4 linked regions of the Homo sapiens genome follow. The protein of the gene in region 1 purifies or fractionates together with the protein of each later gene. This does not show direct contact. Each region holds a gene or a part of one and is shown on either strand. Other genes may lie near its edges. The genes, in order: HDAC7, YWHAE, ZYG11B and ADNP.

Region 1 (7,872 bases):
TTTCTCCTTGTGTCCCCTGCCACATAGTTGGCACATAGACACATACATGTATATTCAGAACTGCAGGTGTCTAGGGCAACAGACCACAGGGGAAACCACATCACCTTTGTTGACTCTGTAGGGAGATGGGGGTAAGGGGAAGGGACCAGCTTAGTTCTCTCCACCTGCCCCAGTCCCCACAGTCATCTACCCTCCCAACCTGAGACCCTGGTACTTATAGCCACACTGTAGCCTCTTCTTGATCTAGCCATCCAATTCTGGCCCAGAAGGATTTGGCACCTCTTCTCTCAGATCCTGACATCCTAGATAGGGGTCTGCCTGCCTGTACCCCAAAGTCACACCCCCAACCCTACTCAGAATACTTATACGGTTCCCCTGATTCTGCTGGTGCAGTGCAACAGAGAAAGGTGGGAAACAGGGATGAGACCACATGGCTGGGGTCAGAAACTTGGCATCTGGAATGAGATGTACAGGGACCTCAAGGAAGCAGGCTACACTGGAACAGGAGACCCTGGCAATGCGTCCTTCATTATTTTGACCTGCTAGGAAATTGCACAGGCTCTGAATCAGACATACTTGGGATTAAGTAACTTACTGGCTCTGTGGCCTTGGGCAGATCATTTTGTCTTTCTGAGTTTTACTTTGCTCATGGAAACAATGGGGATAATAATGAGATTTAAGTGAAAGGGCTTTGAACAGCGTGCGATATGTAGAACATGCTCAATAAATCCTAAATTATCTTTCCTTCCTTCTTTTTCTTCCACTCCTTCCTTCCCTCTCTCCTTCCCTCTCTCCTTCCCTCCCTCCTTCCTTTCCTTCCTTCCTTCCTTTTTTTCCTTTTCTTCCTTCCTTTCTTCTTTCCTTCCTTTCTCCCTTCTTCCTTTTTTTCCTTTTCTTCCTTCCTTTCTTCTTTCCTTCCCGTACTTCTTATATCTCTTATGTCTGGTCCCATGAAACCCTTTATTTGGAGTTGGGGACCTAATCTCCCTTACTAATCTGCAAGTCCCAAACCCTGAGAATTGGCATTTGATTCCAGATCCAGAAACTGAAATGCAAGATCCAAACTAACCCAATACAATGAGTGTCCACTGAGATCTCACTGAACTGAGGCCTTGGGGAAGGAGCACTTTCTGGTTGGCTTTGTGCGAAGTGTGTGAGGATAAGTGCAGGCTGGCGGAGGAATTGTGGCTATGGCCCCCACATCTAGAAGGTTGGGAACGGAGGGTATCAGAAAGTTTGGATAATTTTCTGGGGCTTTAAATCCTGGCACAAAGTAGGCACCCAATAATATTTGTTGAATGAATGAATGGCCCTGTCACTTACTAGTTGTGCAACTTTGATCAGGTTTCTTAACCATAAAGGCCATGCTTTACTCATGAGCATAACAAGGATTATTGTTAAGAATAAATGATCTAATGTTTGTCCAGGGGATAGCAAGGACTGCTACGCAGTAAATGGTAAACAGTAGCTAACTAAGGAAAGAAGGAGAGGAAAAGGAGAAGAGAAGGTCAAGTAGGCCCAGAGTCCCAAAGGGAAGCAGATTGGGGTGCCCTCAGGCTTTGTGCTGGCCGGAGACTCTAGGGAAGGCTCAGGAAGCCAAGGCACGTCTTTTGGGGCCAGTCTCTTCTGCTAGGTGTTCAGCTGAGAAAGCTATGAGAGGCCTGGACTCAAGAGCTTTTTAAAAAAAGGCTCCCCACGGTAACCAGGCTAGAAGAGAGAGAGGTAGCTTGCATTTCTCTGTCTCATGTCTCTAAGGTTCTTGGAGGCTTTCTAATTTATCCTGGTAGGGGACATGTGACTTAGAAACTGGCTTAGGACTCTGCCATGAGGCGGGGTCTGGTAAGTAAATCTGGCAGGGGAAGGAGAGACACAGTCCAGCTTTCCCAGATGCAGGTTGCACATGCTGTCTTTTTCTCTGACTATATGTTGGAGGCAGTGAGTCCTGGTGTGTAGAAAGCCACATGTTGGGCACTGTGTGGACAGACAGGCAGGGAGATAGCCTCTTAATTCAGATCACTCAAAACTCAGTGATGAGTTTAAAAAGAGAAAGAAGACTCACAAATAAATGTATGCACAATGCACATGGTAGAAATGAGCATAAAAGGGCCTGGCTTTACTACAGAAATAGCTACAGAAAAGCTACGGATATGTGTGTGTTGGGGGTTGGGATCAATTGTGGAGCTAGACAAGGGAGATAGCAGGCATGTCGCTGGGGGTCTGCAGTAACCAAGCAGTTTTTCTGGAGTCTGTGGACACCAAAGAGGCATTTGGAAGGAGGATGATCTGGCTTGGAATTGAGGGCTGGGGATGACATACCTAAGGTGGAACAGCATGTGTCTTGGAGAGTCAGCATGGGTAGTTATGGGGTGAAAGAATGTACTGTAGGTGTCCAGCTGGAGAAGGGTTCTTGAAAGTCATGAACATCTGTCCCAATTCAACAAATAACTCACATCAAGTTTGAATTCTGTGCAAGACACTACAAGAAATGCACCCATGACCAAGGCAGTAGCTGGACTCAGGGATATCCACTCTTGAATGCTCTTGGAAGGAAGAGAGTTGAGACAAGTAGACTAGGTGGGCGAAGGTCAATGTATAAAGACCACACAGTTCAGGGAAGAATTCCTCTTGGCTATGGGAATCCGGGAAAGCCTCCCGGAGAAAGTGGTATGCCACTTTCTTTTTCTTCCAGTCCTTCCTTCCTTCCTTCCTTCCTTCCCTCCCTCCCTCCCTCCCACTAGATAGGGAGTGGGTCTTGAGGATTGGAAAGATTTCAACAGAAGGAGAAAGGGGCTGGGAGGACATTTCTTTTGGAGGCAGCATGATGAGCGAAGGCAAGGGAGTGTGGAAGCGTGAGGACAGGATGGGAAGCAGCTAGCAGCCCAGTCTGGCAGAAATAATGATAGTAATAATAGTGACTAACACTACTGAGCCCTAAGTACCAGGAGGCACTGGGCAGGGATGTGTATGGAGTGTGGTGCCAGGTTGTAGGAGGACTTGAATGCCAGGAAAGGCTTTTGGGAGGGTAAGTTAACAAGCGCAGAGGGGTTGGATCTGCCTGCCGAAGGAGAACTGGGACAAGGAAAGGGGCTGAAGTAAGAAGTCCCACGCTGAATATGCCGGTAGCAACAGATAGTGAGTCCCGAGCTGTGCCTGAGGGAAGGGAATAGAATCTATGGTTTGAAGTTCACCGCCAGCATGGCCAAGCCCTCCTAGGCCACTGTGGGCTCTTGCTTCCAATCAGACATGACTCCACCTCTGGGGCTGCCTCAATTTTTCCTTCTCTGGATTCTTGGGGTTTCTTAGGATTGCGGGAGATAGAATGGGGTCAGGGGAAGCTGCTCCTTGGTTTACAATGGTGGCGCCTCACGCTGCAGAGAGCCCAGTGTTCCTGCGTGGTGGACCTCTCCCCTTCCTAGGAGCAGCTCCAGATTGCTGGAGGCAGACACGGCTGACCGGCTAGCCCAGGAAGCACAATGGCGAGGTCCTTAGCCCCTGACCCCTGAATCTGACCTTCTCTCCAGCTAAAAGCGGAGGGAGAGGCAGGGAGGGCCACTGCCTAAAGCCGGCCCTGAGCTGAGTTTATTAGCTGAGGGAGGGCTGGAGGCGGCTGCATTCCGACTCACAGACTGGAACATTTCTGTGATCCGCTGTAATGCACTGGGGGACACTGGGCACATTGCTGAAGTTTGACTCATAGGGACCGGGAGGGGGAAAGAGGGGGGTTGTGGAGGGAGAGGAATGGGAGGAAGAGAGGAAGAGGAGAGGAGGGAAGGAAGTCCCTTGAGAAATTTCTTTAAAAAAAGAAAACTTTCAAAATCTGCACCACCCCCACACCCTTTTTCTTTTAATAGGAACAGGCTGGACCCTTCCGTTCCCCTCAGCAGGCATGGTGTGTGTGTGGGGGTGCCAGTGGGGGAGGGCTGGGCAGTGATTCAAATCAGATCCTGGAACTTTCCTGAGGCAAGTCGTGCTTATGTGTGTGTGTGTGTGGTGGGGGGTGTCCGTCTGGGATTCCTTGTATGGGACATGGGACACCACGCGTGTCCCACTGTGCCCGCGTGTGGCTGCGTGCTTGTGGGCTGTACGGGTATGTAGTGTGTGCACGGGGGTCCACCCCGAAGCCCCAGTGTGTGCTGTGTAAATGATTCTGCCCCTTGTAAACATGGATGCGTGCTCGTGTACGTTGTGTATGCGAGGGTGCGTGCGCCCAGGTAGCTGGGTTTCCGGGAATTGTGCACGGCTCGGAGCGCCTCGCGGCGGCTGGGGCTCGGAGCCGCGGCCGGCGTTCCGGGTTCGGCGCTGCCTCCCCGGCAGTGCGCCGCGCCCCGCCGCGATCTGGCCGCGCGCGGTGTCTGCGGCCCGCCTGTGCGCCGCGCGGTGCAGTGTCTGCCGGGGTGGTGTGTCCCAGGGCCGCGAGCGCCTGCCCCCTCCCTCCCCTCCCCCTTGGCCCGCTCTCAGACTCAGATAAAGCATTTCCTTCCATTGTCATCCTACCCGGCCGGCCGGGCTGCCAGGGCCCTCCCCCTCCCGGCCCCCTCCCTTCCTCTCGCCGTCTCACAGTCGCTCTGCAGCCTCCGGCGACTGGGGGGATGTGAGGCCGGCGCCCCAGCCCCCCGCCCCGCCATGAGCCCCCCGCTCTGAGGGCCCCGGCCCCTGGATGCACAGCCCCGGCGCTGGTGAGTACTGGGCGGCCGCCCCCCGCCCCGCCCTGCGCGCGGCACCCAGCGTCGCCCGCCCAGGCTCGGCCTCCGGCCCTGGCCCCGGCTCCGGCTCCGGCTCCGGCTCGGGCTCCCGCCAGCCCCGCGGGCCCAGCCCGGCTTGCGCCCCCCGACCGCGCCTGTCCCGCCCGGCTCCGCGGGGCTCTGGCAGGCTCCGGGTCGGAGCTGGTTCCGGGGGCCGGAGGGCTCGGGCCTCCCGCGGGGCGCCCACATCCGCCCGCCCCGGGGCAGCTACAGGCCCAAGGGAGGGAGTTGGAGGCCCCGGCCGCCGGTGTGCGGGCCCCACGTCCCATCACCCCTGTTCCCGGGGAGGACGAGCCGAGGGACCGGGGAGGGAGGGACGGCCGCGGTGGCCCGGCGAGGGGGCGGTGCTCCGGGGCGGAAGGTTTGGAAGCGCGAGGGCAAAGGGCAGGACCCACTGAGTTGGGGCTGGGCTTTGTGGGGCTGGACATCAGCGCCCCCATCCCGTGGAGCCGGGCAGGGCCCTACTCAGATCCTTCGGCGGGGAAAGAGGTCCCTTGGAGGGGTCTCTGGCTGGGAGGTTTCTCTGAGCATTGCCCCCCATCCTTGCTCACCCATCAGGGTGAAGAGACACCTGTGCCCTGGTGAGCTGTGGAGGTCAATGCCGGCAGCGGCGCGGGAAGCGGGGCGCCGCAGGCTGTGTGAGGGGTGGGGGACAGGATGTGCACCCCCCAGGCCTGGGGTCTGTTGGTGTTGGGGAGTGTGAGAGCAGGCGGCAAATTTGGCGGATGGGCTGGGTTCCCACGACCAGAGTTTCTAGGCCTGTGGGCCAGGAGAGAGCCCTCTGGGGCCCGCAGGCCACCCAGTGCCCCACCCCCATTGCTTCCCGCTGTGGCTGCCCGTTTGGGTCTGACCTCCCCAGCCACGGCTGCTCCTCACTCCTTCTCCCCGCTGGCTGTCTTGCGCACCCAAAGGCCTCCCCCTGCATCTGGACACTGGCTGTCTCGCTGCCAACGCTCCCTGCCCACTCCCCTAGGCAACATCTGCCTGAGGCCCAGCTCTGCCTGCCGCTTTCTAGGGTGAGAATGGGGCATCGGCCCTCAGCGGCCCTGCTGGGAGCTCAAGATCAACTTCTCAGCCTGTTCCCTGGACTTGCATCTGGACCTGTGGGACCTTCCTCAGGACCCCTATTCAGCTATAGGGCTGGCAGGAGACTGTGACTCAGGTCCCTGCCCTCCAATGAGACGCTTTGGCGGCCCTTTCCCCCTCCCAGGACTCCATAGGCTGCTAGGCTGCCGCTACCCATGGGTTATTAAGTCATTTTCTTCTTCTCTGCAGTCATTTCTGAGGGAAACTAAGGCACAGAGTAGTCCCAGTGAGTGGTACCCAGCCCAGTGAACCTAGACTGGAACCAGGTCTTGGACCTATTGGGACTGGTCCTCTGCCTTTAGTCCCCTGATGTCCCTCCTTGCCCAGCAGGGCCAGGCTCAGAGGCAAGCTCAGAGCTGCCTCCTGATGTTGCACCTGGAATGGTCCTGGTGCAGTGTTCTCCAGAGGCCTCTGTGTCCCTTATTCGGCGGGTGTCTCTGTGGCCACCGGGTCTTACAGTGGGTTTTGGGGCAGGGAAGTTTGCATGTCTAAGCTGTTCACTCCACTTTGACACTGAAGTTCAGTTTCCCCATCAGTAAAATGGGGAGAAAATTCCAAGCACACTTCTCAGAGCAGAGCAGAAGAGGTTGACTATGGAGAGGAGAATGAAGGTACTGTGCTATTATCCACCCCCTCCAGTTTGCTTAGGGATAATGGACCTCAGCTTTAGTCCTTGGTGGCCTCTTGGCATGGAAGCTGGAACTTTCTCAATTCTGATATAAAACCCTTGAGCAAGAGAGAAACTCATGTGTGATGGGGTAGGGAGTGGGGACCCTCTGGTAGCTGTGGGCAAGCATGCCCAAGGACTTGGAAGACAGAAGCCTGTGGAACCCCATCTCCTCTTTGCCTTCTTTCTCCTGGCCTTTCATTAAGGGCTGGTAATTTTGAAGTCGGCAGGGGCCTGAGAGAAGGTGAGCTAATGCAAGGCCCAGGGTCACACAGCCAGGGAATGGCAGGCGGAGGGGGCCAGAACCAGGCCTTCTCACTCTGCCAGTGCCCATTCTGCTGGCCCACCCTCCACAGCTTGGCTCTCCCTGGCCTGCCCTCAGTTAGACTTCGGACTGAGGCCTCCAGTGGGGTGTGGGGTATTGCTGGAAGCAGGGCCTGAATAAAGTCTGGGGCTAGCGGGAGGGCATCTGTCCTCCCGGAGGCTCCCAGGACTGTGCATTTGTGTGTGTTGGATTTGTTCACTAGATGGGGCACTTCCTTTGGGGCAGGAAGCTTTGATTTCCTGTGGTGATGGTGAGGAGGGGTTGGTAAGGATTAGGAGTGGGGGGCTCAGCTCTGGGCCATCCTCGATGTTGTTGTTTGGAACCACGGAGGGGCAGAGTTTCTGCTTAAGACTGCTTCTCCCAGCTCTGGGGAGGCAGGAAGGAGAGCCTTGGTGAGGAGGCCCAGGCCAAGGCTGGAGAAGGAGGCTGTGAGAGCAGTGAGCTGGGGGTGGGCAACACAGCAGGAAGCCCGGTCAGCAGGTGACCCTGCCGGGTATTGTGTTTCCTTGTAATATTTTCCCCCTGTTTCTGTGGTAACCTTCCCTGGAGGCCCCAGGCCTTAGGGCTACAGGAAGGTGCCCCCAGACAGCCCTTTCCTTAGAGGCCTGAGTATTAGGAGGAGTCCCCAGATCTAGCCACCTCCCTAACCCTTTTGGCTCCCTAGGATCAGGGGCCTGGGAATCTAGGCGAGTGGCCTGAGTGAGCATGGACTCGCGGGCTGGGGGAAGGCCCTTTGGCGTCTTCTGGGGGGAAGGGAGAGGGAAAGAGGGGAGCTGGACGCCCGGAAGGGCCCTGAGCAACTTGAGTCGCTGGCCTAGCCTCTTGTTTCCTCCCAACCCATCCCCACTGCCCTCCTCCAGTCTCCCTCCTCCTACAAGGGAGAGGTGGGTAGCATGCTGCCTGGGGCAAGGGGCAGGGGTGGGGGTGGCAGAGGTGGGAGGGATGTTTTCATCAGCAGAGCATAGCTCCTTTGGTCCTGGACCAGTTCCCAGAGGCAAAATAAATTCAGGACAGCGTCTGTTTAGTGTGGGTCTGCATGAGATGTGTGTGAG
Region 2 (7,354 bases), on another chromosome or scaffold:
GCCCAGCTAATTTTTGTATTTTTAGTAGAGACGGGGTTTTACTATGTTGGCCAGGCTGTTCTTGATCTCCTGACCTCATGATCCACCCACCTCGGCCTCCCAAGGTTTACAGGGGTGAGCCCCTGCTCCCGGCCGAATAGTACACTTTAAATGGGTGAATTGTTAGGTAGGGGAATTATATATAAATAAAGGTATTATTAAAGGGATAATTGTTGCTTCTATAATTTTACCACACAGTCTGTGCATTGTTTTGTGTATATGTAAAAATGAAAGCATTTATGCTTGAATCTGGAACAGTAGAGTATCACTGAGTGTTACAAATATATTTCTCTTTGCATTATAAAAATACTAAGTCTTCGTTGTTGAAAATTTGTAAAGCACAGAAATTTGAACAAAATTAAATCATAAGGAATGATATTCGAGATATGTAACTTAAATTTTTGGTAGTATTTGATGTCTGCATAGTTTTTCTGTATGTAATATTGTAAAGCCTTAAAAGAATTAATGGCACTGTTTTTGTGTAGCTGGGTTACTTAAGATTTACTTTGCGATCAGTTTAGAAAGTTTAATTACAGGCTTACCTCTGAGTTATGTTTGACTTGCTGATTTTTGAGAATTAAACTAGTATGGAGGTACGATTACCTATTCCACTGCTTCTAAATTTAGACTGTTTCGTGACTGGTTTAGAAAACAAAATTGGGCATGTTTTAGATGAATGCTTTCAGACTCCTACAAATGAATTAATGAGTGGTCTTATTACCATATTGTAATACTTTTTTTTTTTTTTTTTTGAGACAGAGTCTCACTCTGTCGCCTAGGCTGGAGTGCAATGGCGCGATCTCAGCTCAGTGCAACCCCTGTCTCCGGGGTTCAAGCGATTCCCCTGCCTCAGCCTCCCGAGTAGCTGGCACTATAGATGCCTGCCACCATGCCTGGCTAATTTTTGTATTTTTCTTTTTCTTTTTTTTTCCTTTTTTTGAGATGGAGTTTCGCTCTTGTTGCCCAGACTGGAGTACAGTGGCGCGATCTCCACTCAGTGCAACCTCCGCCTCCCGAGTTCAAGCAATTCTCTCGCCTCAGCCTCGAGTAGCTGGGATTACAGGCATGTGCCACCACGTCTGGCAAATTTTTTTGTATTTTTAGTTTCTCCATGCTGGTCAGGCTGGTCTCGATCTCCCGACCTCAGGTGATCTGCCTGCCTCGGCCTCCCAAAGTGTTGGGATTACAGGCGTGAGTCACCGTGCCTGGCCTAATTTTTATATTTTTAGTAGAGACGGGGTGTCACCATGTTGGCCAGGCTGGTCTTGAACTCCTGACCTCAGGTGATCCACCTGCCTCAGCCTCCCAAAGTGCTAAGATGACAGGTGTGAGCCACAGCACCCAACATGTCATCCTTCTTTAATGGTTCAGAATTGCATTTAAAAAATCAGCTTGAGGTGTACAGTTAAACGTGCCACTTTTACATGTACAATTCTGTGACCTGTCCTTTGCACAAAAGCCCCTCAGTTCACCTCTGTACCTTGATAACCATTTGCTTTCTGTCTTTTTAGTTTGTGTTTTTTGCAATTTGATATAAATGGAATGATAAAATCCTTTTAATCTGACTCTTTTCACTTAATATGATGTTTTTCAGATTCTTCCATATTGTTGCTTGTATCAGTTAATTATTTTTCTCCCCTCCCGTCTCCTCTTCTCTTTCTGGACACAGAGTCTCTCGCTTTGTCATCCAAGCTGGAGTACAGCGTTAGGATTATACAAAGTAATTGTGGTTTTTGCTGGCAAAATGCGCAATTACTTTTGTACCAACCTAATAGCTCACTGCAGGCCTGAATTCCTGGGGTCAAGCAGTTCTCTTGCCTTAATCTCCTGAGTAGTTGAGACCGCAGGCACACACCACCACACCCAGCTAATTTTTGTAGAGGCAGAGTCTCACCATGTTGCCCAGGTTGGTCTCAAACTACTGGGCTCAAGTAATCCTCCTGTCTTGGCCTCCCCAAATGCTGGGATTACAGATGTGAGCCACTGTGCATGGACAGTTAATTCTTTATTTTTGAGTGGTATCCCATCTTACATATGTGAACATCAGTGTGCTTATACATTTCCCCTCTGGATGCACATTTGAGGGGTTTCCACTTTTTGGCTATTATGAATAGAGTTGCTGTGAGTGAGTGTGTAAAAGTCTTTGTAAAGATTATTTTTCTTCTGGATGATGCATAGAATTGGGATTGCTGAGTCATATGGTACATGTTTATTAAAACATTGCCGAATATTTTTCGAAGAGACTTTACAAAATATGGCTTAATTTTTTTTATATTCCCGAAAGGATTAATTTTTGAAACATATTTTCCTGGATACATTAGGCACACTCCCCTTAATTTAATAGTGTTTTGGTTTTTGTTTTGTGTTTTTTTTTGAAACGGAGTCTCACTCTGTCACCCAGGCTGGAATGCAGTGGTGCAATCTCAGCTCACTGCAACCTCTGCCTCCCAGGTTCAAGCAGTTCTCCTGCCTCAGCCTTCCTGGTAGCTGGGATTACAAGCGTGCACCACCATGCCCAGCTAATTTTTGTATTTTTAGTAGAGACGGGTTTCACCATGTTGGCCAGGCTGGTCTCGAACTCCTGACCTCAGGCGATCCACCCACCTTGGCCTCCCAAAGTGCTGAGATTACAGGTGTGATCCACCGTGCCCGTCCAATTTAGTAGTGTTTTATGAAGTCACCATCTCTTTCATACCTATTAGTTAAGGTATGCTTATGCTTAGGGTGTTAATGAAAGCTAAGGATGCTTATTTAAATGCAGATTCTTTCTTTTGGTTTTTTTTGAGATGGAGTCTGCTCTGTTGCCCCAGGTGGCATACAGTGGGGCGATCTCAGTTGCAATCTCTGCCTCCTGGGTTCAAGCAATTCTGCTGCCTCAGCTTCCCAAGTAGCTGTAATTACAGGCGCGCACCACCAAACGCAGCTAATTTTTGTATTTTTAGTAGAGACCGTTTCACCACGTTGGCCAGGCTGGCCTTGAATTCGTGACCTCAAATGATCTGCCCACCTTGGCCTCCCACAGTTCTGGGATTATATGCATGAGCCACTACATCCAGCCTATTTTTATTTTTATTTTTATTTTATTTATTCTATTTTTTTTTTTTTGAGGTGGAGTCTCTGTTGCTGGGCTGGAGTGCAGCGGCATGATCTTGGCTCACTGCAATCTCCACCTTCTGGGTTCAAGCGATTCTCCTGTCTCAGTCTCTAGAGTACCTGGGACTACAGGCGTGCATCACCACGCCCAGCTAATTTTTGTATTTTTAGTAGAGACAGTGTTTCACCATGTTGGCCAGGATAGTCTTTATCTCTTGACCTGGTGATGTGCCACCTCGGCCTGCCAAAGTGCTGGGATTTACAGGCATGAGCCACTGTGCCCAGCCTCTGTTTTTATTTTTTAGAGACAGGGTCTCGAACTCCTGAGCTCGAGTGATTCTCCTGCCTCAGCTCTCAAAGTGCTAGGGGTATGAGCCACTTACTCCTGGCCCTAAAATGCAGATTCTTGAGTCTCATCACCAAAGATTGAAACGTGGGTAATGTTGGAGAGCCACATGGTAATATGGCATCAAAAATAAGTTTTTATTAATGTATTTATTCAGTTACTATTTCTTGTGCTGTTTGTGGCGCTTTGCATTCACACGCCGTTGTGTTTCCCTATGCTTGCGGTAGATGCCAAGGCTTTTCTGGGCCCCTTTCTTTGCTCGCCACCTAGTGGTAACAAGTAGGAATCATCAGAAGTTTTACCAATGAAGGAGCTTCATACGAGGAAGGATAGAAAACATCCAAAGTCTGTTGGTGGCCAACCATATACTCCGTATATTTTTGCTGTATGAACAAATTCCCCTTCCTTTTGTATTTTTGGAAATACTATTTATTTGTGAGACAATACATTTTAGAACCTGTAAATTCTTAATCTTTCTCTTAAACTGACAGCTCATTTTTTTTTGCTGGAAAATAGTTAGGTGTGCCTAATTACCTTATTTAATGAGAGGTGCTTTCAGACCACACTAAATTATATTAGATAGTATATGAAGTCTTTCTCACTCCACCTAACTACCTTCTGGAGTCTTTGTATTGGCTCTTAGTTTGGTTTCCTTTACATGTTTTTGGCTTTTTACTCATATTAGTTTTGATGATTATGAAATTATTTTTGTTAAAATGTTTTTTTCGCAGTAGCTTGACAGAAAAAAACTACTTTGAAAGGAATATGTTAAGAAAACTTCAAATTTGTAAGGTCTGACTTTTCCTTTTCCCATACAGAAATGGTGGAGTCAATGAAGAAAGTAGCAGGGATGGATGTGGAGCTGACAGTTGAAGAAAGAAACCTCCTATCTGTTGCATATAAGAATGTGATTGGAGCTAGAAGAGCCTCCTGGAGAATAATCAGCAGCATTGAACAGAAAGAAGAAAACAAGGGAGGAGAAGACAAGCTAAAAATGATTCGGGAATATCGGCAAATGGTGAGATTGTTGTGCCATCATCCCCCCTTATCCACAGTTTGAGTTACCTGTAGGACGGTACACTTAAGATTTTGAGAGAAAAGGAGACTACATTCATATAACTTGTATTACAGTATGTTATAATGTTTCTGATATTGATCTTTGTGCCTGGTTTATAAGTTAAACTTACCCGTGGCTATGCATGAGGACAAAACATAGTCTGTATCAGGTTTGGTATTTTCCATGGTTTCATCACATCCACTGGCAGGTCTCAATGGATCCCTCTTGGATAAGGGGGAACTATTGTATTTTCAAGCAAAATGATGACTGTTTTTTAAAAAAATATGGTGGGTTGGCCAGGCGCGGTGGCTCAGGCCTGTAATCCCAGCACTTTGGGAGGCTGAGGTGGGCGGATCACGAGGTCAGGAGATCGAGACCATCCTGGCTAACATGGTGAAACCCCGTCTCTACTAAAAATACAAAACATTAGCTGGGCGTGGTGGCGGGAGCCTGTGGTCCCAGCTACTCGGGAGGCTGAGGCAGGAGAATGGTGTGAATCCGGGAGGCGGAGCTTGCGGTGAGCCGAGATCGCACTGCTGCACTCCAGCCTGGGTGACAGAGCGCGAGACTCCATCTAAAAAAAAAAAAAAGCACCCAAAAACCAATATATTGGGTTAATTTGTCTGATTCCTCTTTTTTTTTCCCTGAGGATTATTTAATGAAGTTATTTTACTTACTGTGGGTGTATATACATATATAAAATGTTTCTTATTGTAGGTCTTGTTAAAAAAAAGTTGGACAGCCATCACTGTAATGCAGCAGTTTTCAATTAGAGGTGCTTTTGTACTTCAGAGAACGTTTAACAATGTCTAGAAATACTTTTGATTGTCACAACTTCTGGAGGGTGTTCCTAGCATCTAGTGGGGTGGGGACTGGGGTGCTGCTAACCATTCTACTGGGCACAGCACGGGCCCCACAACAAACTGTCGGGAGTGCTGCTGTTGAGTAACCGATTCTAGTAGAAGAGACAGGCACGTAAATACAGGAAAGAACAGGGAAGAGAATTACAGGGCAGGTGGAAAGTGAGGTTGGTTGGGGGAGGGAAGGGTGGGGGAACCACAGTTACTGACTCGCCAGCTGTACTGGGCACTGTCCTGAGTAGAGAAATATTTTTGTTACATGTATTTGTGCAAGGTAGTACATGAAATCTTTAAAATGGCACTGGAAGGGGGAGGTATTATCCCAACTATGAATGCACAAACCAGGGTTTTGGGTGTTTGACATACCTGAGGTCACATAGAAAGTTGTGAGCTGGGGCCTTCCGTGGTGGCTCATGCCTGTAATCCCAGCACTTTGGGAGGCCAAGGCGGGCAGGTACCTGAGGTGAGGAGTTCGAGAGCAGCCTGACCGACATGGTGAAACCCCGTCTCCACTAAAAATACAAAAATTAGCCAGGCATGGTGGCGGGCACCTGTAATCCCAGCTACTCGGGAGGCTGAGACAGGAGAATCGCTTGAACCCAGGAGGTGGAGGTTGCAATGAGCCAACGTCGAGCCACTGCACTCCATCCAGCCTTGGCAACAAGAGGGAAACTCTGAATCAAAGAAAGAAAAAGTAAAAAATAAAGAGTCCAGATGTCCTGATGAGTCCCTAAATAGAAATAATAAGAGAAGAGGAACTGAAAAAGGAAGCCACGGGCCAAGAGTGGAGTGTTGCAATTCAGACTTCTAGTATGGAGCAGCATGGTCATGGGTGTGGACAAGTGAAAGTCTAGGAGTAGAGAGCAAAGAACTCTGTTGAATGGAACATGGCTGCACCATACCTTGGTGTGATCTCAGGTATTGGGTGGGTTTGCTGTAGATACTCAGTGAATCTGGGAGAAGGGTGTAGAGATCTATTGATGACAAAAACTGAGAAATAGAATGTAGATCATCAGCTTGTGAGGAGGAAGAGTTTGGAGTAATAGAGCAGTCATTGAGTATGCAAGGAGCTAGGAGAACTTAGAAGTCTTCCTTCTCCTAGACCAGTCTCTATTGGAAAAGCTGTCAGGGATGTCGTTTATTCAGAAAGTAGTTTTGCTTGGGATAAGGATGTGATTATAGAAGAAAAAGAGAGAATTTTCTGCAGTGAAACGGAGGTTCCAGGGGCACGGAGAGGACCCTCATGAAAGGTTCAGCAGTAGTGCTGCATGAGTTAATAGCAAACAGGAAGCAAGCTGAGGATGTGCGTTGAGAGGTGGTGTGCGTGTTCAGCATGATCAGTGGATAGAGATGGGTGGCAGTAGCTACTTTGGTAGATAGGTTTTCGGTGTTTTAATAGTTACGGATCTCTGCCACTAAAGGAATTGCCTGGTGAATGTTGTTAAGGATGTGAGTGCTGAAGGCAAACTGCCTGGGTTTAAATTTTGATTCTGTCCCTTGCAGCCTGCCTGGGTTCAAATCCTAGCTCTGCTTATTAAATTCTTATTTAATTGTTGATCTTAGAGCAATGTCTTTACGTTGCTACCTTGTGAAAGAAGGTAATTCATGTAATTGACCAGCATTTACCAAGAAGCATCAGTGTTCAGTTTTAGTCATTGGTAATTCTGTAGCTGTACTGTGGTACTGTGAAGGGGGTGTGGGGGCTGGCGTGTGTGCGTGCCTGCATGTGTGTGTGTAACAATAGGCAGCATGCAGAAGGGAAAAGATACTTTTTATAACCTAGAGGCAGCTTTTCTCTGCTTTTGTGTCAAGAAGGAAGAAGGGAGTTTGGAGAGGGATACAAATTCTTTTTAATACTAAGCTCTCTACCTCAAAACCAGAGATAGAATATGTAATAATTTGTAGAATTTCTAGACTTAATCTGATTTAAAAAAAATTTTTTTTTTTTTAGGTTGAGAC
Region 3 (7,230 bases), on another chromosome or scaffold:
CCTTCTCCTCACCTCTCCCATACATACACTGTTACTCTGTGTGTATATGTTTTAACAAGCAAGGAAAAATCAAGTTAATTAGATGCAAAGTTTAAAACATAATCATGCCTAATATGTCTGCTGTGGTCTGAATTCTGTCTCCCTAAATTCATATGTTGGAATCCTAACCCCCAAGGTAATGGTATGAGGAGGTGGGGCCTTTGGGAGGTGATTAGATCACCAGTTAGTGCCCACATGAATGGGATTAGTGCCCTTATAAAAGAGACTCCAGAGAGCTGCCTGGCCCCTGCCACCATGTGTGAAAACAGTGAAAAGGTGACTTAGGAAGAGCCCTCACGAGACACTGAATCCACTGGGGAACTGATTTTGGACTTCCCAGCCTTCCAAACTCTGAGAAATAAATTTCTGTTGCTGACAAGCTACCTAGTTTATGGTATTTTGTTACAGTAGATTGAATGGGCTAAGACAGTATCTTGCTAGCCTCATTTCCTACTACACATCTCCATTCTTGCATCCTTCCATGCTATATAAGGGTAATACTACTTCCTACAATGCATCCTAATTCCTTCCTACTTTCTTTCTTAAAAAAAAAAAAATCCCTGTGAGGGGATCCTTTCTACTTGCTACTCACATTCACAATGAGGCATTCTTCCCCTTCCCAAAATGATCTATATAAATCCTATTCAACTTTCAGGCCCAGCTCAAAGGACACTTTTAGATCCTAAATACCTCAAAGGGGAGTTCATAACTCCTCCCTCTCATACATTCATTCTCAATGGAAGGGCCCACACTTTCAAAAATCTAGCAGTGTAATGTCTTAGGTAGGATAGCTCTTTATTCTGAAAAGTATATCATCATACCTCACTCAATATCATTTTTGCATCAAAATTAAGATTCTCTGCCCAGGCGTGATGGCTCATGCCTGTAATTCTAGCACTTTGGGAGGCCAAGGTGGGAGGATGGCTTGAATCCAGGAGGTCAAGACCAGACTGGGCAACACAGCAAGACTCCATTTCTACAAAAAGTTTTACAAATTAGCGGGGCACGGTAGTCCGTGCCTGTGGTACCAGCTACTTGTGAGGCTGAGGTGGGAAGATCACTTGACCTCAGGAGTTCAAGGTTGCAAAGAGCCATGATTGTGCCACTGCATTCCAGCCTGGGCCACAGAGCAAGATCGTCTCCAAACAACAATTCTCAAACTCACTCTTTCTGTGTAGTCCACTAGTTACCTCAAATTTCAGTTTAAGTTTATATTAGTCAGGTGGGAAATGAGACCATAAAGTGAATCATTCAAGCACCTAGCTGGCCTGGGCACTTGGAATAATAAGTAAGGAACGGTTGCTACCTAGAACTTACATTCCACAGGGAGAAACAGGTTAGCATACAACAACAGTGTGTGAAAGTGAAGGAGACAAACACAGGAAAATGACAGACTAAAAATGCAGGAGTGAGTTAGGGAAAATTCATAGATTAAATAATTTTATAGTATATTACTTTTCTAAAAAACTGCTGGAGGGAAAAAAAGAAACTGACTAACCTCCTAGGGGAACATAATTATCAGGACTTAGTTTTGCCTTATTCCTCCCAGAGACCAAAATTTAGCTTGTTGCATATGATGGAGCAATGTTTTCAATAAATGTACAGCAAACCACTTATAACCCAACTCAATGAAAAAACCAACTGAAGCCTCAACCTATTTTCAGACAGAAAGAAAATTTGCAAATATAAGGTTCTCCCAACTAAAGGCAGACAGGGCAAAACAAATGAACTCTTTAGAAGGTTTAAAGAGACTGTCACAACCTGCCAACCTGATTGTCAGTCCTCAAATGCCCTTGGTCTCTGCCTCCAAATGAAAACAAATCATTTGTTTTTAGTAATAATAGCCAAGCTTGTAAATAAGTATTTTTAAACTTCTCCAACTGCACCTCCACATTAAAAGATGCTCAAAATAAAAAAAATTCAAAACATTTTTTAGCTATTTCTGTCAAAAGACTAGATCTCTCCTGAGGTCACAGTATGCATGCTGGCCCTCACTTCACTGCTCTGTAACACACCACCACTTCGATTTTGCAATGACACTAGGTGAATAGGCTTCCAGGATCTCTTCAATGCCTCCAAAAACGAAAAGGAAGAAGCAAACCTATAAATCCCTATCTGCCCGCCCTACAGCTCCCGGGAAGCAACAGTCCTCAAATTGTTCCTGCTTAGACCCCTGAAGCCCGTAGAAGGAAATGGGGACAGCTGCGACGGCGAACCGAGCGAGGACATCCGATAAGGGAAGAGGAAACGTGGATGGAAGAGGACGAAGGGGAGAAGGAACACGGAGAGAAGGGGGCAGTGGAGATAAAATGGTGAAGAGGGGTGAGAAGAGCAAGGAAGAGCAGCGAAAACTAGGGAGGAAAGGGGGGAAAGTAAAAATCACATAAGAGGAAAAAAGGCAAAATGATAGAGGAGAAAGAAAGGAAGGGTTAGGGTTAAAGGACAAGGAGTGGGCGACAAAGGGAATGCGAAAAAGGCTGTCACTGGGGGTGATAAAAAGGATGTCATCGGGGAGAAGGGAGATTCAGGGGGTGTCACCTAAAGGGGTTCACCGAAGCAGGTGAATGGGGAAGGAGGAGCTGAACACCGAGGGGGCGGTAACGAGGGAGAGAGGTAAAGGCAGGGAGCCCGAGGGGACACCAGAGACAGGGAGGGGCAAGACCGCAGGGGCCAGCGCGACGGGCGGGGGCTAGGGTGGCGGGCGGCTGCGGCTAGGGCAGGCCTTGCTCCCTCACCATGGCTGCGCCGGCCTGGTCCTCGGGCATGCAGCCTCCGTCCTGGGTGCGGCGGCGGGCCGGACCGGAGCCCGCCCCCAGGCTGAGCCGGCGCGGAGGCTCCAGGAGGCTCCGGCGAGCGGCGGCTCCGGGCTTGGCCCAGGCCTCGGCCTCTTTCCCTCAAGCTAGGAGCGTAGCAGTAGCAGCCGCAGCCGCAGCCGCAGCCGCAGCCCGAACCAGAGCGCAGACTCCGCCCCCGCGAGGACCCGCCCGGGCGCGCGAGCCCGCGCCTGGACCCGCCTCCGCTCTCAATGCGCAGACTCAGACGAGGGGGTCCCGCCCCCCCCAGCCCGACCTCCAGCTTCTCCCCCTCCCAGGCCCTTAAAGGAGCCACACACCCCCAAATCCTAGCATCCCTTCAAAATATGAAAAGCTTTAAATATTACATCATGACGAGAGATTAGAGCATCGCTCACTTCGGTCACCTATAGACTCCTCTGTCATTCACCATCATTCTCTAAGATTTGGGCTTCTGGTTCACTGTCATTCATTACTACTATTGTCATAACTCTTGGTTATTTCAAAATTCGCTTAATTCTTCCAATCCTCTGGCCTCTCAGATTCTTCTCTAGGGATCATTCTTGGCTCAGCCTCTCACTCTCATGCTCATACGAATAATTGTAACTTCTCTACAATCTCAATTTTAATCCTCTAACTCCCATTGCAACCTTCTTCCTTTCTTTCTTTCTTTCTTTCTTTCTTTTTTTTTTTTTTTTTTGAGATGGAGTTTCGCTCTTGTTGCCCAGGCTGGAGTGCAGTGGTGCGATCTTGGCTCACTGCAACCTCCACCTCCCGGGTTCAAGTGATTCTCCTGCCTTAGCCTCCCGAGTAGCTGGGATTACAAACACCCGGCACCACACCCGGCTAATTTTTGTATTTTTAGTAGAGAAGTGGCTTCACCATGTTGGCCAGGCTGGTCTCGAACTCCTGACCTCAGGTGATCCGCTTGCCTTGGCCTTCCAAAGTGCTGGGATTACAGGCGTGAGCCGCTGCGCCCGGCCACAACCTTCTTCCTTTCTAGCTCACTCTGTCTGATAATACTCCAACTCCAAAAACTTCAACTCCAAGACCCCAAATCCATTGATCCAACTACCTTTTCGCTATTCCTCCCCACGCTGGCCTTATGTACTCACTTTCTTCCTGAAACAGCTTAGATTCTATCGTCCGTCATGAAATGGAATCTAATAGAATCTAAGCTGTTTGGGGAAGAAAGTGAGTACATGAGGTACATGAAGTCGATTTCTTCAGTATTACCTTCATTTCTCTAGTCGTTCTCTGCTTTCTTTGTACTGACAGAACTCCAGCAATGGAGTGGGTGGAGAAAAAGCCAAAAGTGGTTGACTGACTCCCCGTAAATTTGAGATCATTATTCTCAAGAGGCCATAATGAGTGGCTACCCTACCACATTTCTCCAGTTTCACACACTCTCCCACCTTGCTACATAACTATTTCAAGTCTCCTGTCTCTTCAAACCTCCGACACTTCCTCCCTCATCTCATTTAGCTGATGATTTTGCTTCTAATTCACAAGAAAATCAAACAAACCAAAAAGAACATCTACAAGTTCCCAGCACCCACCATGACTTCCAACGAACCTGTAACTCTGCTTTGATGCTCTCTCTGCCTTCCTTTCCTTACTACAAGTTAATTATTTGTCTTTTAGCTAACATCAAATCCTCCTCAGTTCTCAAGCATCTGTGCTAAAAGACCCAGATTTTATCCCCAATCACAAAACTAAATTTCTGTAAAATACAATCAAAATTAATTACTAGAAAAAATTAAAATTTAAAAACAAGCATCCAAAATGCAAGCCCAGATTTTTTAAACCTGCTTAACCATTTTAAAGTGTACAGTTCAATGGTATTAAATACATTCACATTGTTGTGCAACCATCCCCATCAAGAAGCTCCAGAACTTTTTATTTTTTCTTTTATTTATTTATTTATTTATTTATTGAGACAAGTTCTTACCCTGTCACCCATCAGGAGTACAGTGGCACAATCACGGCTCACTCAGCCTCAAACTCCTGGGCTGAAGCGATCCTCCCACCTCAGCCTCCTAAGCAGCTAGAACTACAGGCACATACCACCACGCCTGGCTACCTTTTTTTTTTTTTTTTTTTGTAGAGACAAGGTCTCACTGTGTTGCCCAGGTTTGTCTCAAACTCCTAGGCTCAAGTAATCCTCCTGCCACAGACTTCTAAAGTGCTAGGATTACAGACGTGAGCCAATGTGCCAGGCCTCCAGAACTTTTTTATCTTGCAAAGCTGAAAGCTTGTACTCATTAAACAATAACTCCCCATTCCTAACTTCCCCCAATCCCTCGCCATCACTGTTCTGCTTTCTATCTCTATGAATTTGACTACTCTAGGCAGAATTTTTATTATTAAACCCAACACGCGTAACATTTTTCTGTCAAATTGTTATAAAAGTTTCAAAATATTAATTCTGAATTGCTGTCACAAACTGGTGAAAAACCATTTCTAGATGGTCACTAGTCCATTGATGACACTTTGAGGAGCTCAAGTACTAGGTCTCATACCACGTCACTTTCTCAAAGACACCTATCCAGCAATTCTTCCTCTCACCTACATCGCTATTTTTCTGCTATTACCTCTCATTGCTATAGCAACATGATTTTATTTCTTCCATCTTAAAACAATCAAACAAAAAAACCCTCCTTAGGTTGCAGTGAGCCAAGATCACGCCACTGCACTCTAGCCTGGGCAACAGAGCGAGACTCCACCTCAAAAAAAAAAAAAAAACCCTCTCTTGACTGGACTTGACCCCCCACCTACTGCCCCATTTCTCCATTCTCTTTTCTGCAAAATGTCTCACAAAGGTGGCTTGTACATGGTCTCACTCTGTTGCTTAGGCTGGAGTGCAGTGGTGCGATCTCAGCTCACTGCAACCTTAGCCTCCTGGGTTCAAGCAATCCTCCCACTTCAGCCTCCCAAGTAGCTGGAACTACAGGCATGTGCCACCACGTCCAACTAATTTTTGTATTTTTTGTGGAGATGAGGTTTCATCATGTTGCCTAGGCTGGTCTTGAACTCCTGAGCTCAAGCAATCTGCCTGCCTTGGCCTCCCAAAATGCTGAGATTACAGGCATGAGCCACCTCGCCTGGCCTTGACTTCCTTTTTCTCATTTTCGGTGAGATCCTCTCTGGTTAAGCTTTTACCTCCTCCACTCCACTGAAATGCCCTTGTCAAGGTCACTAGTGGTGTCCATTTGCTGACACCAGTCAATTCTCAGTCCTCGTGTTACTTGACCTACCAACATCACTAGACACAGCTCATTACTTCCCCCTCCTTGGCTACCATGACATTTCACCCCCTCGGGTCTTCTATCTCACTGGCTGCTCCTAGTTTCTCCTCATTTCTCTGACCTCTAAATACTGTAGTACCCCAAGGCTCAATATTTCGACTTTTTGTCTTTTGCATGTACACTCCTTGATAATCTTATCCCAACACATTACTTTAAATATTATCTATGCTGTGATAACCCCAAAATTATATCTGCATTCTGAATTTCATACTTAAATATCTAACTGCCAGCTAAACATATCCCCTTATATGTCTAGTAAGCTACAATTTTTCTTAGTAGTTACTCAATAGACTTCCCCTCAAGTACCATGGATAAGCCAATAAATACCAAAGAGAATAGGACCAACAATAGTAGCTTAGACCAATCATGATTTACTCTCCGTCTGATCTGTGAGTTACTTTCCCTAAGGACTTCCTTGTAGTGGAGGAAAATCGTCATTAAAAATTAGAGTTCTGGGCTGGGTGTGGTGGCTCAGGCCTGTAATCCCAGCATTTTAGGAGGCTGAGGTGGGTGGATCATGAGGTTAGGAGATCAAGACCAGCCCGGCCAACATGGTGAAACTCCATCTCTACTAAAAATACAAAAGAAATTAGCTGGGTGTAGCGGTGCGCACCTGTAGTCCCAGCTACTCAGGAAGCTGAGGCAGGAGACTCGCTTGAACCCGGCAGGCGGAAGTTGCAGTGAGCCAAGATCACTCCATTGCACTCCAGCCTGGGCGACAGAGAGGGACTCCTTCTCAAAAAAAAAAAAAAAAAAAAAGAAAGAAAAAAAAATTAGAGTTCTAGCCAGCCAAGGTGGTTCACACTTGTAATCCCAGCACTTTGGGAGGCCAAGGCAGGCAGATGGTTTGAGACCAAAAGTTTGAGACCAGCCTGGGCAAAATGGCAAAATCCCATCTCTACAAAAAAATACCAAAAAGTAGCTGGGCATGGTGGTAGTTTCAGCTACTCAAGAGACTGAGGTGGGAGGATCACCTGAGCCCTGGAGGTCGAGGCTGCTATGAGGCATCATCACGCCACTGCACTCCAGCCTGTGTGACAGAGTAAGACCCTATCTCCAAAAATAAATAAATAAATAAGAGTTCTGCAATC
Region 4 (7,354 bases), on another chromosome or scaffold:
AATTTTTACAGATGCTAATATTGTAATCATTTGCATTCTACACCCCTTTGTATAAAGTATAAGTATTCAGTTACTATTACTTTGATAACCCAATCTCTAGAGTTGCTAAGCTTCTAAAAGCCTTAAATGTCTGATGAAAACATGGTTTTCCATGAACTTGTTCTTGCTACCAAAGATTGACAGTGGTTGATGTTTGTGGGTACCTTTAAGACTTTGTATGTTACATAAATACACCAAGATAAGTTTATGGAGAACTGAATGGGTGTATTCTTTGATACCTAGTTAACCAGTTGGTGCTTAACAGGAGAATTTTTCATTGGAGAATTGCTACCAGGTAACATTTTGGTGAGTGAAAAGGAGGCCCTTTGGTACAGGTATTTGACTAGAGACATTGCTTCTACAATTTCTTAGTCATTGTGAAAAATCACATATTTAAATGGGATTATTTAAATTTTTAAATACTGTATAGTATTTGTAGGCAGGTATAGTTTTTATCTTTATTTGGTGTTTTATATGCAGTTATTTAAGTTCTGAAAATGACCATATAATTTGAAGACAACTTATTTGACGGAATGTTTGAAATGAAGTTTGTTGAGGGGCTTTTGTTTGATTTAGCGAATGGGATACAGTGTTGAATGATGTCCTAAGTGGTAACAGCCATTTTCCCTTAAAGGAAAACTTGCTGTGAGCTCTTAGAAAGCATGTATTCTACTGTTTCAAAGGTTTCTTGGTTTTAACACTCAAAAAATAAGGTGAGGCCAGGTGAGGTGGCTTACGCCTGTAATCCCAAAACTTTGGGAGGCTGAGGCAGGAGAATCACTTGAGGCCAGGAGTTCAAGACCAGCTTGGGCAACATAATGAGACCCTGTCTCTACCAAAAAAAAAAAAAAAGTGAAACAATTGGGCTTGAAGACTGGAATTTATAGTAGGTAAACTATATACTTCATTAAAGTATAGTAAAAGGTTCAATTAACTAGAGTGTGGGGAATGGGTATTCTGTTTAACTGAACTTTAAGTAGAAATTCCTTTTTTATCTTGGCCTTTGTTGAAAAATTTCCTGAGACTAGCTTATTAGGAGCTATATATTGAAACTAACCTCTTTGATTTTGGTTTTTATAGTTCCTGTATAGAAAATATAGGAGATTGGGCTGAAAATCTCTTAATGACCCTTGGCCCTTCCAACCTTGGAAGTCATTGATTTTATACATGCCCACTGTGAATTTGCTTTGCTTTGCTTAAGTTTATCTTTTTCTCCTTATACCAGAGTGCAGGAAGAGTTTTAATACTATTTATATTAAAATAAGAACTTCACAACCTTGAACAGATGGTTTTGGTACCACTTGCAAGTAACCAACCAGTAGGCTTTTATCAGGCAAAAATGGCTTATTATTTATATTTGATTATTAAAAGTATAGGTATATAAGGCATACTATGTGAAGTTGTTGCTTTCCTTGTAACTACTTACACGTTTTGAAAGTATTAAAAAGTTAGTATTTTGAAAACTAAAATACTCAAGTTTATTGATTAAATAAGATGATGCTGGCTACAAATTTTATTTTGAAAATTGCAACTTAATAAGGAAGATAAAGCTGTTTTGTAAAGGAGAAAGTAGAGATTGATACTTCATAGGGTAAAAAAAAGAAAAACTTCAGCATTTATGTTTCTTCTTTTGAGAATCATATATAAGTAACAAAACTGCATAAATTGCAATAGACCTAGGTCACTTGATTTCACAATTGGGTGTGTGTATGTATGTACACATACATATAAAATATATGTAGGTTTTCTAGAGCTGGAAATGATTGTCATATTATTAAATACAGATGAAAAGTTCAAGTATCACGTGTAGTTTGGGGAAAGTACATTTAGTTTTGAGATGTAGTTTGGGGACAATACATCTAAGTGTAGTAAAAAAATACCAGAATTAAACTTTATGTATGTATTTTTTCCAAGTAACCTATTTAAATCTTAGTGAAATAAAGATTTTTAAAGTAATATGAAAGAAAAAAATAGGAAGTTTTTATTTTACAACATTAGAAGCATTATTGTGGTTTACACCAAAGTACCCATGACTGTTGTGTAAATAAGCTACTTGTTCAACCTGGAGTTCCAAAGGAGTTTTTAAAAGAGCATCATAAAGTCAGTTATGTCTTACATAAGGTAAAATAACTTTCAGTGGGAGTTTAACCTTCATTCTCTTGACTGAGAGGCATGTACATTAAGAGAAACATTGCTCCCCTATGTGTAAATAATTTAATTATAGTTGGATTCACAGAGCTTGACTTGTTATTAGCATCGTATAAACTTAAAGTTTTTCCTCCCCTAGTTTTTGTGTGTTGTTTGTTTGTTTGTTTGAGACAGTCTTGCTCTGTCTCCCAGGCTGGGGTGCGGTGGCCCAATGTCGGCTCACTGCAACCTCTGCTTCCCGGGTTCGAGTGATTTTCCTGCCTCAGCCTCTGAGTGGTTGGGATTACAGGTGCCTGCCACAACGCTTGGTTAATTTTTGTATTTTTAGTAGAGATGGGATTTCGCCATGTTGGCCAAGCTGGTCTTGAACTGCTGACCTCAGGTGATCCGCCTGCCTTGGCCTCCCCAGGTGCTGGGATTATAGGCGTGAGCCACCGCTCCCAGCCCCTCTCCTAGTTTTGTAAGAGCTTGTGATAGTAACTGGAGTAAATGCCGTATTTTGCTGATGTACCTCACTGCCAGTTAACACCTTCTATGTTGTTAGTTTGGAAACTCGGTGTTTGAAACTAGTATAAACCAAAGCCCCATGCTAATTAACTGAATTGATACTTTGAATGTAAAAGCTGTTTCTTGTTTTTACTTTGGCACTTTCCACCTTGATTGTTGAGATACTTTATTTGATAAACCGTCCATGCTTTGCCCATTGTGGGTGGCCATTGTGATTTCATGGTTTTTTGTTGTTTGTCTGATCCTGTTTATTAGAAAGTGAGGAGAGGATGATTATGTTCCTTCATCCTCTCAGTGTCTTAGTACTCCCTACACCTGCGTTATGTTATGACCTACCTTTGCGATCTGCCAGTTTTGGGGTCAGCTTAAGTGAGAATTCATATTCTGCTTCACTGGAATGAGAAGGCTCTCCTCACATATTATCATGCTTCTCAAGTTGGTATATATGAGCCAACTTGATTATGTAGTGTGTGTGTGTGTGTGTGTGTGTGTGTATAGGAAGTCACAGATAAAAATTGAGCCAACTGTGGAAAGTGACAGTTTTGATTGCAGGGCACACGTTTTTTTATTCTAATCAATGAAAAATGCAAAATTCATATTACTGTTTTTAGTCCTGGGTCCTGTCATCTCTGTGTATTAATTCAGTCCTCTGCCTTAAGGAGTTCCTTGAGATTTCACTCACAAGCTTTGGTATTATTGATCCCTACCTTGGTTCCAAGACAGCAGCTAGAGAAAGCCTGGAACCTCTCAAGAATTTCAGCAGTGTTCTGGAAATAAAGATTTAGAAAATAAGAGGAAAGCATAGACAACGTTGGATGGAGTTTACAAAGGGAAGCCTGCTCTGAATATATGCCACAGTTTTAGATTTAAGTTAAAGATTTAATTTAAAAGCATACACGTAATCTAAAAGAGTCATGCATTATTTGACCAGCTGTTAGAATTAAAAATGAATCTGCATATCCTAATACCCTCTTCAGTAAGGGTATAGATTTGTAATTGAGTCACTTAGCTGTGGGTTGTGTTTATATGTCACTTCTCATGTGACTGTGATGACTTTAATAAGGATGTGCTGCTTAAGTGTAAAGGCCCCCTTGCTGGCCTTTATGGTATTATAGTATTGGTGGCTTGTCTGTTTTATTTTCCAAGCACTTTATAAACTATTCCCAATTTTCTCAGGACTATCCTTGTTTCACAAGTAGGGAAATCAAGGCACTACCACATACAATGATGAAATGAGCCACAGAGTATGTCTGGGCTGGTTCCCAGGCCTGTGCTTGCAACACAGGCCTTTATGGTGCTCTTGTAAGCTGTTTGGCTAATGGGGGCTCACATGAATGCTTCCCATTTCACAGTGAGGTTTTATGCTTCCATGTGAGCTTAAACCCAAGGATTCCAATGGCGTCTACATGTAAAGAAGCTAGCCACACCCCCAGCAGGGAGAGTATGGGTGTAAATTGTGCAGGTGGCAGTTAATTGGAGTAGCATATTTCTGCTGGGAAGTTAACTGTATAAGAATCTAAAAAGAAACGTTGTTTATGTTCCCTTTTCTTTTCCCAGTTTTTTAGTTTAAGACAGTCAGTCTGTCCTGAGCAGTTACTTTTTTCTTAGATAATTGCTGGCTTTTACCCTTTCTTTTTCTGAATCCTTCATGCTCCATTTAAGAGCTTGTGGAAACCTGTGCTTCAGTTGACAATCTGTAAAGCTCTGCTCTTCTGGTGGAAGCTCATGACCTGAGAACCTTTTGAGTGGTCTCTTTTGAGAAACTCCTGTCTAGTGGAAATATGGTGGAATTTATTAAAATTTTCAATTCGAATTATAAATTTAGGTTGACAGAATCCTTGCTCTTGTGAAAGAAGTGAGCTGAGACTGGGAGTATCCAAATGCAAGAAGTGCTCAGAATCCTGCTTCAAGATCAGTTACACTTAAAAACAGCAACAAGAGGATGGGTGCGGTGGCTTACATCTGTAATCCCAGCACTTTGGGAAGCCAAGGCTGGCGGGTCACCTGAGGTCAGGAGTTCAAGACCAGCCTGGCCAACATGGTGAAACCCCATCTCTACTAAAAATACAAAAGTTATCCTGGTGTGGTGGCACTCACATGTAGTCTCAGCTACTTGGGAGGCTGAGGCAGGAGAATCACTTGAACCTGGGAGGCGGAGGTTGCAGTGAGCCAAGATGGCACCACTGCACTCTAGCCTGGGTGACAGAGTGAGACTCAGTCTCAAAAAAAAATAAAAATAAAAAACAGCAACCAAAAAAAATGCAAATAAAACTTCTCTGAGGAAAGTGTGAAAACTTGAGCCATCAAGTGGCAAAACCTGGTACAAGAACGCTTTTGAAAAGCTACCTTCGGTGAAGCCTTGATCCTGGGAAATGGCTTCGAAAAACTTGAGAACATAGTTTAAATATTCTGTTACTCAAGAATAGTGAAAGAAATATATTTCCTATTGTGGGAAATTATTTCTGAGTAGTTTCGGTAGAGCATAAAAATGTATTATTAGGGGATCAAAATAACGTTTTATGTCATTTAGATACAAAGACTTGGCATGCTTCTGAAATAATTTATAAATGGACATATCTGCGTGTCCTCTTGTGGTGTTGTGATACATACTGGTTTTCATCCACCACGGTTCCTGGCTCATAACACCCATAACCCCATTACCGTGTTTTGTTATAATATAGGGTACGTTAGGTCTCAGAAAATAATCTCTGATCTTCTCCTGCTCTCCTTACACGTGTCCCAAGGCAAGATTCTGATCTTTACCCAGCTTTCTGATTGTAGGTCTTGAGATCCTCTCTAGAGAGAGGGTGTTGGCCCTATACCCCGGGGAAGGGAAGTAAGGTTTCCTATATGAAGCTTTTATAAAAACCCAGGAGGGCCAGGCGCGGTGGCTCACGCCTGTAATCCCAGCATTTTGGGAGGCTGGGGGCGAGCAAATCACAAGTTTAGGAGTTTGAGACCAGCCTGGCCATCGTGGTGAAACCCCATCTCTACTAAAAATACAAAAAAAATTAGCTGGGTTTAGTGGTGGGGGCCTATAATCCCAGCTACTCAGGAGGCTGAGGCTGGAGAATTGCTCAAACCCGGGAGGCAGAGGTTACAGTGAGGCGAGATTGCACCACTGCACTCCAGCCTGGGGGACAGAGTGAGATTCTGTCTTTAAAAAAAAAAAAAAAAAACGCAGGAGGACTGGGTTCAGAGAGCTTCCAGATAGTTGAACACACCTGGAGGGTGGCGCCCCCAGAGAGGGTATGGAAGCCCAGTGCCCTTACGCATTTCTTTATCTGTACTTTTTATAATAAACCGGTAAACATAAGTGTTTCCCCAAGTTTTGTGAGATGCTCCAGCAAATTAATAGAACTCAAGGAGGGGGTCTTGGGAACCCCAGCTTGAAGTGTCAGTCAGAAGTTCTGGAGGCCCAGACTTACAGTTGGAGTCTGAAGAAGGAGAGAGCAGTTTTGGGGACTGAGCCCCCATCTTGTGGAATATGACACTGTATCCAGGTAGACAGTGTCAGAACCAAATTAGAGGATACTCAGCTGGTGTCCGCTGCTTGGGAAAAAACCCTACACGTTTGGTCACAGAAGACAACTTCACGACTTCTGTGTGGTGTGAGGGCAGAGGAAAAACAAAGTTTGAGAGTTTTCCCCTAAAGCACCCCTTAAGGGCTACTTGTGAATTATTTCCCTTTTTCACATTGATCTTAAGCCAGATTGTCCACTTACAGCGACAGCAAGTGGCTGTATGCCTGTGGAGTTCTTATGTAGGCAGTGGAGTGCTAGAATCACTCTTTATGCTGTGTCCCTGCCTTGCTGCAATACCTGTTTAGAGTGAAGTAAACTGGGAAGTGCTCCTCACCTCACACTCTCCCTAAATCTAAATTGGTATATTATAAAGTATCCTCAGTCTGTTTTTCTTGTTTAAGTACCGAGGCATCTTCCCCCGCTTTCAAATACAATTTTAGGTGAACTCTTAAATTGATGAAGGGTCGGGGGGCCAGACCTCTGGCTGCCCAGCTTTCACCTTGTCCCTCAGGCATCATCTTCCCTCTGTTTGTATACATATCTTAAACTCTTAGAGGAGTTCAGCCTGAAAACAACTGGTTCTACTGGTGTACTGGAAATTCTGGTGGTCACTGCTAGAATTCTTGCCTGAAATCTGAATACGGAAAGTATCAGGATAAGCAGCAACACAGTAGCAGTTTTCCAGTTGTGGGCACCAGTCTTGTAGTCTGAAAATCTTCCTAAAAGACCAGTGACTCCACATATTTTTTAAAACTTAAGATACGCAAAATCTAGATGACACCTTTATGTTTCTACATAACTGTAAGTCACCTGGGTTTATTTAAGATAGTTGCAGATGTTCAGTTGCCTAAATATTTTAAGTGTCACTGAGCTTGTTAAGAATATGCAAACCTGAGTATGAATGGCTCACACAGATGTAAAATATTGTATAAAAACACTACTGTGCATGATGCATTGTAATGTGTACAGGAACAGATGTTGTTATGGCAACCACATCTGATTCTCAGTCATAATAGTTTGAGCTTTTTGGAGAGGTTATGCCCTGGTGTGAACTCAGAATTTTGAAAGTGATTATTTTAGTATCTCATCTGGTTTAAGGTGATAATGGTAACTGACTTAAGCATTAACTTGCATCA

Evidence for each region.
Region 2: the proteins of HDAC7 (region 1) and YWHAE purify together in Homo sapiens (affinity purification with mass spectrometry; 4 studies listed by BioGRID and IntAct, with this or other methods). This does not show direct contact.
Region 3: the proteins of HDAC7 (region 1) and ZYG11B purify together in Homo sapiens (affinity purification with mass spectrometry; 3 studies listed by BioGRID and IntAct, with this or other methods). This does not show direct contact.
Region 4: the proteins of HDAC7 (region 1) and ADNP purify together in Homo sapiens (affinity purification with mass spectrometry; 3 studies listed by BioGRID and IntAct, with this or other methods). This does not show direct contact.

Annotation. Positions count from the first base shown.
Region 1 is NC_000012.12:47,816,571-47,824,442, reverse strand, and holds the start of HDAC7 (histone deacetylase 7), read left to right. Parts: upstream 1-4,539; 5' UTR 4,540-4,657; coding exon 4,658-4,676; intron 4,677-7,872. UniProt on the Homo sapiens protein: Responsible for the deacetylation of lysine residues on the N-terminal part of the core histones (H2A, H2B, H3 and H4).
Region 2 is NC_000017.11:1,362,001-1,369,354, reverse strand, and holds part of YWHAE (14-3-3 protein epsilon), read left to right. Parts: intron 1-4,296; coding exon 4,297-4,496; intron 4,497-7,346; coding exon 7,347-7,354. UniProt on the Homo sapiens protein: Adapter protein implicated in the regulation of a large spectrum of both general and specialized signaling pathways. Binds to a large number of partners, usually by recognition of a phosphoserine or phosphothreonine motif.
Region 3 is NC_000001.11:52,722,228-52,729,457, reverse strand, and holds the start of ZYG11B (protein zyg-11 homolog B), read right to left. Parts: upstream 3,006-7,230; 5' UTR 2,805-3,005; coding exon 2,775-2,804; intron 1-2,774. UniProt on the Homo sapiens protein: Serves as substrate adapter subunit in the E3 ubiquitin ligase complex ZYG11B-CUL2-Elongin BC. Acts to target substrates bearing N-terminal degrons for proteasomal degradation with the first four residues of substrates being the key recognition elements.
Region 4 is NC_000020.11:50,921,098-50,928,451, reverse strand, and holds part of ADNP (activity-dependent neuroprotector homeobox protein), read left to right. Parts: intron 1-7,354.